Linked DNA regions of Homo sapiens: region 1 is linked to region 2. A link means that fine-mapping ties the variant in region 2 to the expression of a gene that starts in the linked region. Tissue or cell type: whole blood. Region 2 holds a variant in brackets; the other region holds the start of a gene. All regions are shown on one strand. Distances are between the middles of the regions.

What was found. PIP is the estimated chance that this variant, and not a neighbour inherited with it, causes the effect.
Region 1: it holds the start of SH2B3, and the variant in region 2 is fine-mapped to the expression of SH2B3 in whole blood (INTERVAL, PIP above 0.99).

Annotation. Positions count from the first base shown.
Region 1 is chr12:111,400,995-111,409,097 of GRCh38, forward strand. SH2B3 (SH2B adaptor protein 3) reads left to right here and starts at 4,929. Exons shown (of 8, transcript NM_005475.3): 1 at 4,929-5,283. It overlaps LINC02356 (long intergenic non-protein coding RNA 2356), which reads left to right. Exons shown (of 4, transcript NR_187522.1): 4 at 2,144-2,316. RefSeq lists an enhancer at 2,136-2,385 and silencers at 4,408-4,567, 4,688-5,267.
Region 2 is chr12:111,537,118-111,545,220 of GRCh38, forward strand. The region is part of intron 5 of ATXN2 (ataxin 2); the gene reads right to left. Among named protein-coding and RNA genes, the nearest start is that of ATXN2, 58 kb to the right of the region's middle. The variant C/T (reference allele first, on the strand shown) is at 3,616.

The sequences.
Region 1 (8,103 bases), 140 kb before region 2:
ATTCTGGGCACAGGGAACAGCCAGTGCTAAGGCCTTGAAGTGGGAGCATGAAGGTGAGTTTGAGGAACAGCCAGGAGGAGCCCAGTGTGCTGCAGTGTCCTTTGATAATGCTCAGCACTCTGTGCATTCACTGAAGGCCACTAGGGACAAAGTGTCCTACACAATGTCATTTCCCTTCACCCAACTACTATCATGCCCATTTGACAAGCCAGAGATACTGAGGCTCAGAAAGTGGGAGCCTGTTGCTGGTGGCAAGAGGGGACCTTTGGAGGTTGCACAGCAGTGCCGTGATGGAAACTCGGGCATGGGAAACACCAGCAGTAGCCATTGCCCAGCTGGGGGCCAGGCCAGGCCAGGTCCCCGGGCCTCCTCCTCGCCTGTGGCCCAGGCCTGCAGAAGCACATTTTACAAATGCAGACAGCAAGGCCTCCACTCTGGCTGGGTGACCCTGGGCAAGATCTTTGCTCTCAAACCTCAGTGTCTGCATCTGTAAAAGGGGTGTGAAGCTCTGTTGTTTACAGGACTGGTCTTTGTGGCCACTCCTCTTCACAACCCTCGAGGGACACGGGACTCTCACACCCAATCATAGATTATAATCACATTCTTTTTTTTTTTGAGACGAAGTCTCACTCTTGTCACCAGGCTGGAGTGCAATGGTGCAATCTCGGCTCACTGCAACCTCCGCCTCCCAGGTTCAAGCAATTATCCCTGCGTCAGCCTCCCAAGTAGCTGGGATTACAGGCACCCACCAGCACGCCCAGTTAATTTTTGTATTTTTAGTAGAGACAGGGTTTCACCATGTTGACAAGGCTGGTCTCAAACTCCCGACCTCAGGTGATCCATCTGCTGCAGCCTCCCAAAGTGCTGGGATTACCGGCATGAGCCACCGAGCCTGCACTATATTCAACATTCTTTATCAGTCGTTGCTATGTGGAGGTACCTCCCCCACTCCTAAGCCCTCAATGTGAGTTTTCTCATCAAATTCCCCCTCAACCCAATGGGGTCAGTCCTGTCACTGTCCCCATTTTCCAGATGAGGAAACTGAGGCCCAGAGAATCTATGTGACTGCACAGCTAGGAGATACAGAACAGAGAACTCTTTTTTTTTTTTTTGGAGACGGAGTCTCGCTCTGTTGTTGCCAGGCTGGAGCACAGTCGCGTGATCTCAGCTCACTGCAACCTCCCCTTCCTGGGTTTAAGCGATTCTCCTGCCTCAGCCTCCCGAGTAGCTGGGACTACTGGCACCCGCCACCACACCCGGCTAATTTTTGTATTTTTAGTAGAGATGGGGTTTCACCATATTGGCCTGGCTGGTCTTGAACTCCTGACTTTGTGATCCACCGCCTCAGTCTCCCAAAGTGCTGGGATTACAGGCCTAAGCCACCGCGCCTGGCCCACTTTTTGAATTTTTATGAGTATATAGTAGGTGTATATATTTATGGAGTATGTGAGGTATTTTGATACAGGCATGCAATGTGTAATTATCACATCAGGGTAAATGAGGTATCCATCACCTCAAGCACTTATCATGTATTTGTGTTTGTACTAGTTAACTTTTGTTGTTATTTAAATTATTATTAATACGAATTGCTAATATGAATATTAATAGCATTGATCATTGTTAATTTATTGCTGTTGACTCGTGTTGTAATCGTTATCTTTTTAATTTTTTTTTTTTTTTTTTGAGACGGATTTTCACTCTTGTTGCCCAGGCTGGAGTGCAATGGTACGATCTCGGCTCACCGCAACCTCCACCTCCCGGGTTCAAACAATTCTCCTGCCTCAGCCTCCTGAGTAGCTGGGATTACAGGCATGCGGCACCACACCTGGCTAATTTTGTATTTTTAGTAGAGACGGGGTTTCTCCATGTTGGTCAGGCTGGTCTCGAACTCCCGACCTTGGGTGATCCGCCTGCCTCGGCCTCCCAAAGTGCTGGGATTACAGGCATGAGCCACCGCGCGTGGCCTGTAATTGTTATTAATCCTGTGAGTCTCCGGCTTTCTGGAACTTGGCCAGCAGGAGGTGTTGGTGTTTTTCACAGCAAGAAGGAAGGGCGGTTGGACCTGCTCCCCTAAGACGGCCTGGCTTGTTTCCGGGAGCTACGGATCAGTCATGGGAATTTGAATAACCCTTTCTCTCCTTAGGTCCCAGTGACCTGCCGAGTGGGAAGAGCCGTGGCTGGCCGGCCTCCCAGTGGCGACGACGACCTCGCTGTGTTCGTGGCAGCGGCACTCTCAAATCTGGGCACGGTGATGGGAAGGTTATTTGTTGGAATCCCTTTGCCTTTCCAAGGGAAAATAAACACAAAAAGTGAGAAGTCTTGGGGTCTCAGCGAGCGCCAAAACAAAAAACTGGACTCTGGCGGGGATGTGGGCAAGAAGCGACTAAGCGAGGAAGGAAACCAGTTTGGGCCTCCGAGAAATCTGGCAGGCGAGAAGGTTTGAACCGTGATTAAAAAGGGGAAGAACCACAAGTCCCAATTTAAGTCAGCAGAGCTGCTGTCTGGGCAGTGAGAGGGAAAGTGCTTGTGGCTGGCAGATTTCAGCAGCCATTTGGCATTGGCTGGGTACCGGGCTGCTCTGTGGGTGCTGCCTGGCAGCTGCATGGCTACAGACAAGTAACTGTTCTCTCTTGGCCGCAGTGTCCCCAGGTATAAGAAAGTGATCAAATAATATGGGATGATCCATTCAGACTTTTTTTTTTTTTTTTTTTAGAGACAGAGCCTACCTCTGTCTCCCAGGCTCGAGTGCAGTGATGCAATCTTGGCTCACTGCAGTGTCCACCTCCCAGGTTCAAGCGATTCTTCTGCCTCTGCCTCCCCAGTAGCTGGGACTACAGGTGCGTGCAACCATGCCTGGCTAATTTTTGTATTTTTAGTAGAGACAGGGTTTCACCCTGTTGACCAGGCTGGTCTCAAACTCCTGACCTCAGGTGATCCGCTGGCCTCAGCCTCCCAAAGTGCTGAGATTGCAGGTGTGAGCCACTACACCCGGCCTCGTTTAGACTTCATTGACATTCCCCCACCCCACCCCTCTTCCCACATCCTCAGATGCCGTGTGAACAGCTTGAATCCCACACTCCACAGGTCCTTCTCCTCACAACCCTCCATGGCACCCTACTGCCTTCAAAATAATTCCCAAAGTCCCCACCAAGACCTTCAAGACACCATGTGATGGGCCCACCTTTGAAACATCATCTCTTACCAGTATAGGTGTCACCACTGCCTTTATGACTTTATTCCAAAGCACCACATGTATTCCCACCTCAGCACCTTTGCACATGCTGTTCCTTTGGCCTGGAATGCTCTTCCCTCAGACGTTATAGCACCTGGATCCTTCTTGTCATGGAGGGTTCTAAGCTCACATGTTAGTTCCGCAGAGGTGTCCTTCCTGAGCCCTGGATCTAAGACATCCCCTTCCAGCTCTCCATCCCGTAACTGTTTTGTCATTGTCATAGCTGATCCCACTTGCTTATTCGTGCCTTATGTCCCCCCACTAGAATATCAGCTCCACGCAGGCAGGGATATCTGTGTTGTTCACTGCTGTGTTCCCAGCGCCTAGAACAGTGCCTGGAAATGTGCGGAAAGCAGATTTTTGTGGCCTTTTTCTTCAAGGTCATTGGACACCAGGAATCCTGTAGCAGACCGCTCCCTTCCCCCATCTACTCGGAGTCTGGAAATCCCCACCTTCTGGGGAACCCCTTCCTGTAGTTCTAAGGTCAGGACTGGGGCCGATTTGTTTAACACAGAGAGCTTCCTGGAGCCAAGCCTCGAGCTAACTGCTTTAATGCATTAACTCACTTAATTCTCACTGCCAGGAGAGTGGGTACACATTATTTCCATTTCATAGGCAAGGAAGTGGAGAGGTACGGAGAAGTCAAGTCATTTGCCCGGGTAGGAAGAGGGGGAGGCAGTGGAATGGAGACACTTGCTGCCTGGGAAGACTCGAGGTGGCCCCTCCAAGCTGGGGGCGTGGGCGACTTGTTTCCTGTTGGGGGAGGGGGAGAAGAGTACATTCCTCCCTCCCCGCCCTCCCACATGTTGGGGGAGAGGCTGGCTGAGAGCATGTCCCACTCCGGACTAGGGGGAACCCCACTGTCCGTCTCAGCTCCCCATGAGGCCGTGGAGAAAATGTAAGTAGCCCGGGGGCGGGCAGGGGGGTGGGCGCAGAGGCCACGGAAGCCAGCGGTCGGAGAGGGCTTCCTGGAGAAAGATGCACCCCTCCTAGAATTGGGGGACAGGACGGGCGGCCGGAGCGAGGCTGGGCTATACGGGCACCGGCTGTAGCAAAGGCAAAGCTGAGGGCTGGGGCCAGAACCCAAATCGGGGGCCTGGGGCCGTGGCGGGTCGGGTCAGCATGATCGCAGATAGTCAGGGTCGGGCAGGGCTGGGCTCCCTCCCTGGGGCGATGATGAAAGCCGTGGTCGCTATTGCACCGCCCAGCCCTGCGGGCACTGATAAGGCCCTGCAGGAGGGAGTCAGCAAGGGCGCGCCCCCTGGAGGCCAGGCCCCTCGACCCTGCCCGCCCTAGGCCCCGCCCCTTCATCTGGCCCCGCCTCCAGGCGCTGAGGCACCTGGTGACCTGCCGGCGTTGAGTGGGTGGGGCTAAAGTCGCCCCGCCCCTCCGATCCTCACTTCTATCTTCAGACTGTGGGACGCGAAATCGGGTGGGCACGTGGTGGGCGTGGCTTCGCAAGGCCTCGCCTTTTTCCGGACCCGCGCCAGGAGAGCCCTCCGACCCTGGCAGCCGCGGACTAGCGGGATTGGTAGGCGGGGCCAGTCCGGGCTCCGCCCTCATGGCCCGCCCCTCCAGCCGAATCTCCGACTCGCGCGCGGCCTGAGGCGTGGCTCCTGGTGGCCCCGCCCCTGCCCCGCCCCTGTCGCGGCCGGCCTCCCCCGCCGGGCTCCGCTCGCACGGCCGGTTCCTCTTTACATAACGGCGCGGGGCGGCATGGGCCCGGGCCACCGCCTCCGCCCGGCTGCCCGCCCGGACTGTCGCGGCCCGCGGTGGCGACGGCGGCCGCTGCAAAGTTTCCCCGGCGGCGGCGGCCCGGGGGCGCATCCTCCCGCAACTGTCAAGCGCTGGCGGCGGAAATGATGAGGCGCTGGCCATTTTCCGAGCCCGGGTTTCCTGCCTGAGCCCCGCTCGAGCGAGCCGCGAGCGAGGAGCCGGCGGGCGGGAGAGGACGCGCCCAGGGCGGGGGCCCGCCCGCCCCCTCGGGATTTCGAGGGCCCGGGGGCGCGCGACGCCATGGGCCGGCCGGGCCCAGAGCTCCTGTCTCTCAGGTGAGCCCGCGTTTGCCCGCGCTCCCCTCCTCCGGGGCCGGGAGGGCTTTTGTGGGGAAAGAGGAGGCCCCGTGTCCAGTTCTGCCCGGGCTCTGCGCGTCACCCCCAGCCCAAAATACTGCCCTGCAGCCAACTCGGATGGAGGCGTTCCGGGGTGACGGCTCCCAGCGCCTACGACCCCCCACTCAGCCACTACCCCCACCCACACACGTGTTAGGGAGAGCGTTGGGGTAACTGAGGCCGTGGGATGGGGGAGAGGGCATCGCTGACGCCCCCAGCCCACCCTACGGTAGCCTCGCCGGTTGGGGGCGGCCCTCCCCTCAACTTGTGCCTGGGGAGGAGCGGTCAGGGGTCACCCATTGCTACCCTGAAAGTGAAAGTAGTCAAACTGAGGCTGTGAGCACAGATGAGCCCTTGGGTGTGGGGGCAGCGGGGGAGGATGCGCCGGCCCCTCCCCACTCCCCATTCCGGGCCATGTGGCTAAGAGGGTAGCGCCCTGATTCAGGAAGCCCCTCTCCCCAGTTCCTGCACTGCCGAGGTCGACCGGGCCAGGCCCCCGCATGCTGCTGAATTGGGCGGTTCACCAGGGCTAGGCGTCCCAGAGACAGGTTTCTGGTATTGATCCTCTCACACCTCTTGCCTGGGGTTCCCTGGGAATCCCCCGACCAAAAAACGTCTGGAGTGGGTGTTGGTCTTCTAGATCCGCACGGTAGGGATGGTATTTCAGAGGTCTCTGATGCCTGGTGCAGAAATCCCCTTCCCTCCCTTCCCTCCCTCCGGCCAGGGGAGCTTTGTTTTGAGGGAGGGGGACTGCATTTGAGGAACTGGAGAGGAGGGTCTGCCTGCCTGTCCCGCTTCTTTTTTTCTTTAGTTTCCTCATTCTCCTGTTTCTCTTCCCCATTCCCAGCCACAATGATGTAGGTGAGGAGGTCACTGCCTGCAGCTGGGGGCCTCCAGGGAGGGGCACGGCCAGGCTGGGCTGAGTGGGAGGAAGTGAAATCTGGTGGGGGGTTCAGAGCAGAGGCCCCGGCAAGGCAATGTCGGCAAGGCCAGCTTTGGTGGCAGGAGGGACCGAGATCTGACCCGCAGCCCCTCGCCGGGGAGATGACAGTTCCCTAACACCGGCTAGCAGCCAGGCCTCAGGGCCCCTGCCAGGGCAGTGGGCCTGTGGGTCTCCAGGGATGCAGGCGCAGGTTGTGTCTGGGTTTCCCATCACTGACCTGGCTGCCTGAGTGGAAACAGCTCTGGAGGCTCCTCGGGACCTGCCCTCGTGGAGGGAGAGCCGTCAGAGGCCACCTGGGCAGGCTGGGCTCGGAGGATGAGAGCCAGGGCCTACTGGGGGAAGTTGGAAGGGTTTTTAGTGCACTTTTCCTGAGCCTTTTCCCACTACCCCCTCTGGGAGGGAAAATCCTTCTGAGCCAAAGGGTGAGCATTCCTAGAACTTTTGTGAGTCCCTGTGGGCCACAGAGCGGCCAGCTGGGAAGGGGCTGGCTCAGAGCATCAGCAGCTGGGGGCTCAGGGTCTGCAGGGGCTCAGCAGGAAGTGGAGGAGGATAGTGAGGAGGGTCCTGGAGACTGTGCTTTGCTACTCCTATTGCCTTCGTTCAGCTGAAGGCGTGGGCAAGTGACTCTGCCCTCAGTTTCCCTCTGTGTAAAATGGGGGAGTAACAGGTTTGCAGTGGAGATTTAATGAGCCAGTGTGTAATGAGCACCTGCTGCCTGGCAAAGAGAGGTTCAGTTGCAGGTGGTGGTGGTGGTAGTGGTGATTTTATCATTGCCTTCATTAGTGTTACTGTTATTGGCTATGAGGTGTTCCTTCAGTAGTCTCCCTTGAGCATCTCTTGCATACATAGCACTGGAATTTCCTGGGTCTTTGGGAGCAGAATTTTGAAGATCTGGGCACTTCCTTAGCTATAAGGCCTTGCTTAACTGCCCCACCTCAGTTTCCTCATCTGTGAAATGGGTGTGCTAATAGTACCTACTTCCTAGAGTCATGGGAACCATGAATGAGTGAATTCACAGTGTCCAGAGTGGCTTGGTCAGGAGGAAGAGAAGAAGTAGCCTTGGGGCCGGAATGATCTTTTTTGTTGTGGGTGTTAGCTCTGCTGGCTTTCTTTCCTCATCCCCCCACCCCCACCCCCATGCCTCTCAAACCTGGGCCTGATCCTCCTTCTCCGATAAATAGAACTTTTGAGTACAAATCAGATCCCACAGGACTGCTGGGCCCTTGGATTTCTGGCTCCCGCTGTGCCACCCCCAGACATTCTCCATATCCCAGGTGGAGCAGAGCTGGAGGCACTTGGAGGGACCTCCTCGCTGCCAGTCTCAGTGCCACCTGTCTGTGGTGAGGGGAGACCGGGTGCCCTCCCCAGCCAAGGTGGGGAGGGTCAGTGAAGGGGGTCTCAGGGACATAGTAGGGAGCTGTCCCACAGTCTGGGCCAATACAGCTCCTTTTGCTGGAAACACCTTTGGGACCCAGTTTACATGACCCCACACCCTTCTGAGGGCTGGTGTTCATGAGGGTCTCCCATTGCTGGGGATCCTTGGGTTGATCACTTAAGCTCTCTGAGGCAATTGAGACAACATCTGTGAAAGGCTTTAACAGCTGTGCACTTGCTGTGACATGGCACATAAGGCACTGAGCGCTGAGCCTGGCACTCAATTAACAATAGTAGATATTATTGCTATTAATAAAACAAGAGGCTTTTCCTGCTAAATTCCCACTTCTCCCTGGTAGCAGTATGGACTTTGGGGCCAAATCTGGGCTCTGCCAGCTTCCAGGTGTGAGGTCCTAGGCAGGTTACCTGGCTTCTCTGATCTG
Region 2 (8,103 bases):
AGGATTATGTATAAATCAAAAGGTGGAAACAATGAAAATGTCCACCAACTGATGAATAAACAAAATGTAGTGTACCTGTGTAACTGTATAATGGAATATTTGGCCATGAAAAAGAAAGAAGTACTAATACATGCTACAGCATGGAAGAAACATACTAAGTGAAACAAGCCTATCATAATATATATGGCCAGATGCGGTGGCTCATGGCTGCAATCCCAGCACTTTGGGAGTCCGAGGTGGGCAGATCACTTGAGGTCAGGAATTCGAGACCAGCCTGGCCAACATGGTGCAACCCCGTCTTTACTAAAAATATAAAATTAGTAGGTGTGGTGGCAGGCGCCTATAGTCCCAGCTACTCAAGAGGCTGAGGCAGGAGAATCGCTTCAACCTGGGAGGCAGAGGATGCAGTGAGCTGCAATCATGCCACTGCGCTCCAGCCTGGGCGACACAGTGAGACTCTGTTTCAAAAAAAAAAAAGAAAAAAAAAGGCTATATATTATATGATTCCATTAATACGCAATGTCCAGAATGGGCAAACCTATGAAGACAATAAATCAATAGTTGCCTGGAGCTGGGGAAAATTGAAACAAACAGAGAGGAACTGCTAAGGGGTTCAGAGTTTCTTTTCAGGGTGATGAAAATGTAAATTGATTGTAGTGATGGTTGCACAATGCTGTGAATATATTTTAAAAAATGGGCTGGGAGCAGAGGTTCATGCCTGTAATCCCAGCACTTTGGGAGGCTGGGGCAGGAGGATCATTTGAGGCCCAGAGTTTGAGACCAGCCTGGGCAACATAATGAGACCTCATCAAACAAAAAATAACAACAAAAATTAGCCAGGAGTGGTGATACACATCTGCAGTCCCAGCTTAATCAGGAGGCTAAGGTGAATCACCTGAACCCATGAGTTTGAGGTTATGGTGAGCTACGATGGCGCCACTGCACTCCAGCCTGGACAACAAAATGAGACCCTGTCTCAAAATAGAAGAAAAAAAAAAACCTAATTTTCTCCCTATCTCAAATGAATGATTAAATTTTCTAGCACTACGATAAAGTGAGATAAAATAGAAAAAAAATCCCTAAGAGAAAAATATATCCTATTTAAGTAATAAAAAGCAGTATTTATTTTCCTTACTAATACATTCTGTTTGTGAGAGGTACAAATTGGATTCTTCAGTTAAAATTCAAGGGAAAACATTTATAAGATAAAATACATCATCTTAGTTTGACTAAGCCCATTAAATAAGATAAAAGGCACTGCAATTAGTAACCTTTTTTTTTTTGAAACCAGGGTCTCACTTGGCTCACTGCAGCCTCAATCTCCCTGCGCTCAGATGATCCTCTCACCTCTGCCACCCGAATAGCTGGGACTACAGGTACATACCACCGTGTCTGGCTACTTTTTGTATTTTTTTTGTAGAAACGGGGTTCCACCATATTGCCCAGGCTGGTCTTGAACTACTGGGCTCAAGCAATTCATCTGCCTTGGCCTCCCAAAGTGCTGAGATTACAGGAATGAGCCACTGTACCCAGCCAGTAATTTTATGTTTTTAAAGCAATTTTCTTAAGCTCTAAATTAGCTAACTTAAAATTTGAACTGAAAATTGTTTAGAAATGGTATCAGTTAAAATGGTGCTGTATTTTACTTCAAAATCAACTAAAAAATAATAAAAAACTCAAACTTACTAATCAGATTCCTCTGAAAGCTGAGTGAAGATCAATAGCCCATGCTCTACAGAATCAAATATACATCAAATTCTACAGCAAAGCCTGAGTGGTGCAAAACTAACAAGAACAAGAAAAAATATGGAAATTCACTTCATGAGGTTTGCTGTATTTAAAAAAACAAGGTGACAGATTCCACGTACGTAATACTAGATTGCTGATTCCCACACTATCTCCTAAAAAGATCAAAAGAAGTTTTAGAAAAGATTCCAATACAAAGATACTGTTTATGGGTGAACATTCTGTTTTCATTTTCTCCATTAGGCTTCTGGATCAGGATCTATTTTAAGTGGGGAGGAGGAGGAAAAGCTAGCTACCTGAAAGAAATTTGTGCCATCTCAAAATATGAAATTAGCCTAGGCCTGGTGTGATAGCTTAAGCCTGTAATCCGAGCACTTTGGGAGGCTGAGGCAAAGAGGATTGCTTGGGCTCAGGAGTTCAAGACAGCCTGGGCAACATAGTGGGACCTCGTCTCTACTTAAAAAAGAAAAATTCTAAAAAGAGAGTGAAAGAGACAGAGAGAAAGAGAGAAATAAGGAGAAATCAGTCCAATCATCGTTTGAGCACTTCTTTATAAAAGGTACTATTTTCAGCTCAGAAGTTAAAGAGAAAGAAAAAAAGAAGGCCGGGTGCGATGGCTCATGCCTGTAATCCCAGCACTTTGGGAGGCCGAGGCGGATGGATCACGAGGTCAGGAGATTGAGACCACCTTGGCTAACACGGTGAAACCCCGTCTCTACTAAAAATACAAAAAATTAGCCGGGCGCTGTGGCGGGTACCTCTAGTCCCAGCTACCCGGGAGGCTGAGGCAGGAGAAAATGGCATGAACCCGGGAGGCGGAGCTTGCAGTGAGCCGAGATCGCGCTACTGCACTCCAGCCTGGGCAACAGAGCAAGACTCTGTCTCAAAAATAAAAAATAAAAATAAAAAAAGAAAAAAGAAGAAAATGATTCTGTAGAAGAACTAAGACAAAAAAAGTAAATTCAGAAATGTTCAAGAATCAAAAAACAGAATTTAGGAATTGAAATGCCAATACTATTAGTGAAGAATAGTAGTCATTTTATAACAACTTATTCTCAAACCTATGGCAAAAGTGTTCAGAATTAGGTTAAGGAAAAGTCAGTAAAATGAAATTAATTCCAATTCTTACAGCTGTACAAATATCTTTTCTGTTTCCCTGGCAAATATGTAAAACATTTTATAGATTCGGATTCTTTTCTAATAAAAAACAGAACAACTGTTCAAGTACACATGCCCACTTAATATTCTTTCCCAGGAGTATGAAATAGAAATAGAACAAAATAGAAATTAGAGATAATTTATCCACATTCCTTCTCTTGCTTTATTACTAGTTTTAATATATCTGCATGCATAAGACTCCATTGAAACCATCCAAGACAAGAGAAAAAAATAATACTAAAACTAGATAGTAAGTATATTAGCATTACACAACCCTATCAGTAAACAGTCTTACTGAAAATGTCCTGGAAACATATGCATTACTTACCTATTCTTTACCTAATAGAGAGTTTAAGAATGCTACTTGTTTTACTTAAACCATCCCACTAGCAGTGTTAAGTGTTTTGCAACTCCCTCAGTACCACTAAGTAGTAGTAATCTTTCTCACATTTACCATTCAGCGCAAGCTGATAGACAATCATATTCCACTGCTTTAAAACTGAATTTCTTTAAAAATACAATAAAATAAAAATAAACTGCATTTCTTAAATCATTACAAGTGAGGAGGGCCACCTTTTCATACATTCACTGGTCATTTTTAAAACTATTTTTCTACTTTTCCCAGTTTGTGGCATGTCTTTTTAAATGTATGGTACTTTTGGACACGTCTAAGTCTTTTTTTTTTTTTTTTTTGAGATGGAGTCACTCTGT[C/T]GCCCAAGCTGGAGTGATGTGGCACAATCTCGGCTCACTGCAACCTCCACTTCCCAAATTCAAGCAATTCTCCTGCCTTAGCCTCCTGAGTAGCTGGGATTACAGGCATGTGCTACCATGCCTGACTAATTTTTTTGTATTTTTAGTAGAGATGGGGTTTCACCAGGTTGACCAGGTTGGTCTCAAACTCCTGACCTCAAGTGATCCACCCGCTTTGGCCTCCCAAAGTGCTGGGATTACAAGCGTGAGCACCACACCCGGCCTAAATCTTTAATCTCTTTATAATCAAAGGTATCGATCTTTTACTTCATGATTTTTTTGCTCTGGTAGTCATGCTTATAAAGTCCTTCTCCACTCAAAATTAAACAAATTCACAGATTTGCTCCAGTGTAGTCTGGGTGTTGTTTTGTTTAATCACAGTTTTCTCATTAATCTATTTGGTTTTATTTATCAGTGTGAAGTAGGTATCTAATTTGTCCCCAATGTCCCAGAATCATTTACTGAATAATCCACCTTTCCTCCAGAATTAAAGTGCTATATTGCATATTAATAAAATACCCACATAAATTCAGTTTTGGATGCTCCATACGTAGCCACTGTGACAGTTATAATTCTTTTTTTTTTTTTTTTTTTTTTGAAACAGAGTTTTACTCTTGTTGCCCAGGCTGGAGTGCAATGGCGCGATCTCGGCTCACTGCAACCTCCACCTCCCGAGTTCAAGCGATTCTCCTGCCTCAGCCTCCCGAGTAGCTGGGACTACAGGTATGCGCCACCATGACCGGCTAATTTTGTATTTTTAGTAGAGACGGGGTTTCTCCATGTTGGTCAGGCTGGTCATGATCTGCCTGCCTCAGCCTCCCAAAGTGCTGGAATTATAGGCGTGAGCCACCGCACCCAGCTGACAAGTTATGTTTTAATTCTGACATATTTTGTAGGGCAAGTCCTCCTTTATGACTCTTGTGGAAAAAAATTTCCAAAGTTCTTCTGTTAATACACATAATCTAATAAGCTTTAGAATCATTTTGTCAATTTCTACAAAAACGGATATATATATATATATTATAAAAATTTTTTTTTTTTTGAGATGGAGTCACCCGGCTGGAGTGCAATCTCAGCTCACTGCAACCTCCACCTACGGGGTTCGAGTAATTCTCCTGCCTCAGCTTCCCAAGTAGCTGGTACCTGCCACCATGTCCAGATGATTTTTGTATTTTTAGTAGAGACAGGGTTTCACCATGTTGGCCAGGCTGGTCTCAAACTCCCGTCCTCAAGTGATCGGCCCACCTCAGCCTTCCAAAGTGCTGGGATTACAGGCGTGAGCCAACGTGCCCGGCCAAAACTGAATATATTATCTTTAGAGATTTATTTGAGGAAAATTGACAACGTTGTAGTATTAAATAATTCCATTCAAAGTATGGCATGTTTCCATTTAGCCAAATCTACTTTTATGTCTCCTTCAGCTGTGTCTTCATAAATCTTCAATTTATCCCCATGTCCTATGCTTATTTTTGTTTTTGAGACAGAGTCTGGCTCTGTCACCCAGGCTGGAGTGCAGCACCACCATCTCGGCTCATTGCAAACTCCGTCTCCTGGATTCAAGCGATTCTCCTGCCTCAGCCTCCCAAGTAGCTGGGATTACAGGTGCCCGTCACCTCGCCCAGCTAATTTTTGTATTTTTAGTAGAGCCATGTCGGCCAGGCTGGTCTCCAACTCCTTACCTCAGGTGATCCGCCACGCCTGGCTGGTTTGTTTTTGAGACAAGGTCTTGCTTGTCACCCAGCTGGAGTGCCGTGGCATAACCACAGCTCACTGCAGCCTTGACTTACTGGCTGCAAGTGAACCTCTCACCTCAGCCCACCAAGTAGCTGGGTTTACAGGAGTACACCACCACACCCGGCTAATTTTTGTACTTTTTGTAGAGATGGGGTTTTGCCAAGTTGCCAAGGCGAGTCTTGAACTCCTGAACTCATCCTCCCGCCTCAGCCTCCAAAAGTGTTGAAATTACAGGCATGAGCCACTGCACCTGGCCTATTTCTACACTTTGGATTCTGCTCCCATGTATCTTGAATCAACCTTACTCTTACTAGTACCACACAGTATTTTTTTATCGTTTGTCCAAATAAAATTCTATTTTATGCTAGAGGTTTTTATTTTTTTTATATTTAATAAATGAAGTTATTGTTCTGACTTTGGCAAACATGATAGGGTAGAGAATTTCTATATACTCTAAAAATTATAAAACATGTAACTTTAATAAATGGAAGATGACCATATCTTAATAAACATGTAATGCTTTTCTACTGTGTACCACGAACTATTCTGTTTAGCTTTCCATTACATAGATCCGTTCCACCTGTTTCTTTCTTTTAATCTCAATAATCTCTGTACTGCCTCCATACTGGCCTCAATAAGTGCCACTCTCCAGTTACTGCTTGGCCCCAGAATGAACACATATCTGTGTCTTAATAAACCACAGCAAAGTTGAGGCCGTAAACAGCTTTTCTAATGTCACGCCGTTCAGAAGAGATCCCTGTTTGTTACTCGTACTCTGTTACTGATACACTATCAAGACCAAAAAGACAACCATATGAGAACACAACAGCACACCAGAATAAAACAATCTGTAGAATTTTATTTCTCACTGTTCTCTAATTACACATTAACACTCCAACTTCTTCCAACTACTAAAATCTACACAATTCTTTTATTTTTTATTTTTGAGATGGAGTCTCGCTCTGTCACTCAGGCTGGAGTGCAGTGGTACGATCTCAGCTCATTGCAACCTCCACCTTCTGGGTTCAAATGATTCTCCTGTCTCAGCCTCCCGAGTAGCTGGGATTAGAGGCGCACACCAGCACACCAGGCTAATTTTTTTTGTAAAATCTAGACAATTATTTGCATCGCTGACTCCATTTGATATTCAATGTCATGCAGTACAACATTCCATTTTTCTTGAATTTATTCACGTGCTTTGCTATCTCTAACTCTAAAAATGCTTAGAATAGAGTACATGGCGTATATGAACTCCCTGAAGAAACTGTGAACACCATGAAATTACATTAGCGTGGGCACAGTGGCTTGCACCTATAATCCCATCACTTTTGAAGGCCAAGGTAGAGGATTGCTTGAACCCAGGAGGTAAAGGCCAGCCTGGGAAACATAGTGAGAACCAGTGTCTATAAAATATTTTTAAAAATTAGCCGGGCATAGCGGCGTGCACCTGTAGCCCCAGCTACTTGGGAGGCTGAGGTGGGAGAGTCGCTTGAGCCAGGAGGTCGAGGCTACAGTAAGCCATGATCACACCACTGCATTCCAGCCTGAGTGACAGAGCATGACCCTGTTTCTTTAAAAAAAAGAAAAAAAATTAATTTTTAAAAGAATTACATGTAAAATCTACATGTGTGTAAATTTTTCTAGGGTGAGGGTATACAGTTTCACTAGGTACACAGTTTCACTAGGTTCTCAAAAGGGACCCAAAATAGATTCTTGTATTTCTCCGTACTGTCCATAGCAACAAGCACAGCAAGGAACACATCCCAGAGCTCTCTAAGTATCTGCTGGATGACTATATATGTAAGACCACTTACAGCTTTTTCATTCTTTCCATAAAATAATGCTTCTACAAAAGTGTATTAAGGCACTGAATTTCATTTATTCAAACACATTTATATTGAGCCTGTACTATGTGCCAAAGCACTATACTAGACCATGAGAATAAATAATAAAGACAGTATCACTGTCTTTACTTGGAGCACAAAGAGCTCAAACTGTAACAGGGGAGACAAGCATATAATTTTAATACAACATGGTATAAGGGCAATGATACACACATGATAGGAGGGAACTTGTGTGTGGTAGCTGGCAGTGTGTGTCATGTGGCAAGAGCAGCAGGCAAAGAAACAAACACTGGGGACACACATCTAAGGGGTGTGTGAAGGAAAAGAAGCCCAGGAATGAGGCAGGGAAGGAATGATCAATAAACATAAAAAATACAGAAGAGGAAATTCTGAAGGAGGGTGAAACCAACATTCAAGTGCAGCAATAAAGACAGAAAAAGATTCCAAAGGACCTGGCAGTTAGAGGTTAATCGTAGCCTTAGGCAGGATAATGGCTAGAAGAATTCAGGATTAAAAAGAATCCTTTTGGGCCCAGTGCGGTGGCTCATGCCTGTAATCCCAGCACTTTGGGAGGCCGAGGCAGATGGATCACAAGGTCAGGAGATCGAGACCATCCTAGCTAACACGGTGAAACCCCATCTCTACTAAAAATACAAAAATTTAGCTGGGCGTGGTGGCAGGTGCCTGTAGTCCCAGCTACTCGGGAGGCTGAGGCAGGAGAATGGCGTGAACCCGGGAGGCGGAGCTTGCAGTGAGCCAAGATAGTGCCACTGCACTCCAGCCTGGGCAAGAGCGAGACTCTGTCTCAAAAACAAAAACAAAACAAAACAAAAAAGAATCCTTTTTAGGATGAGCAGGAAGTGAATAGGTT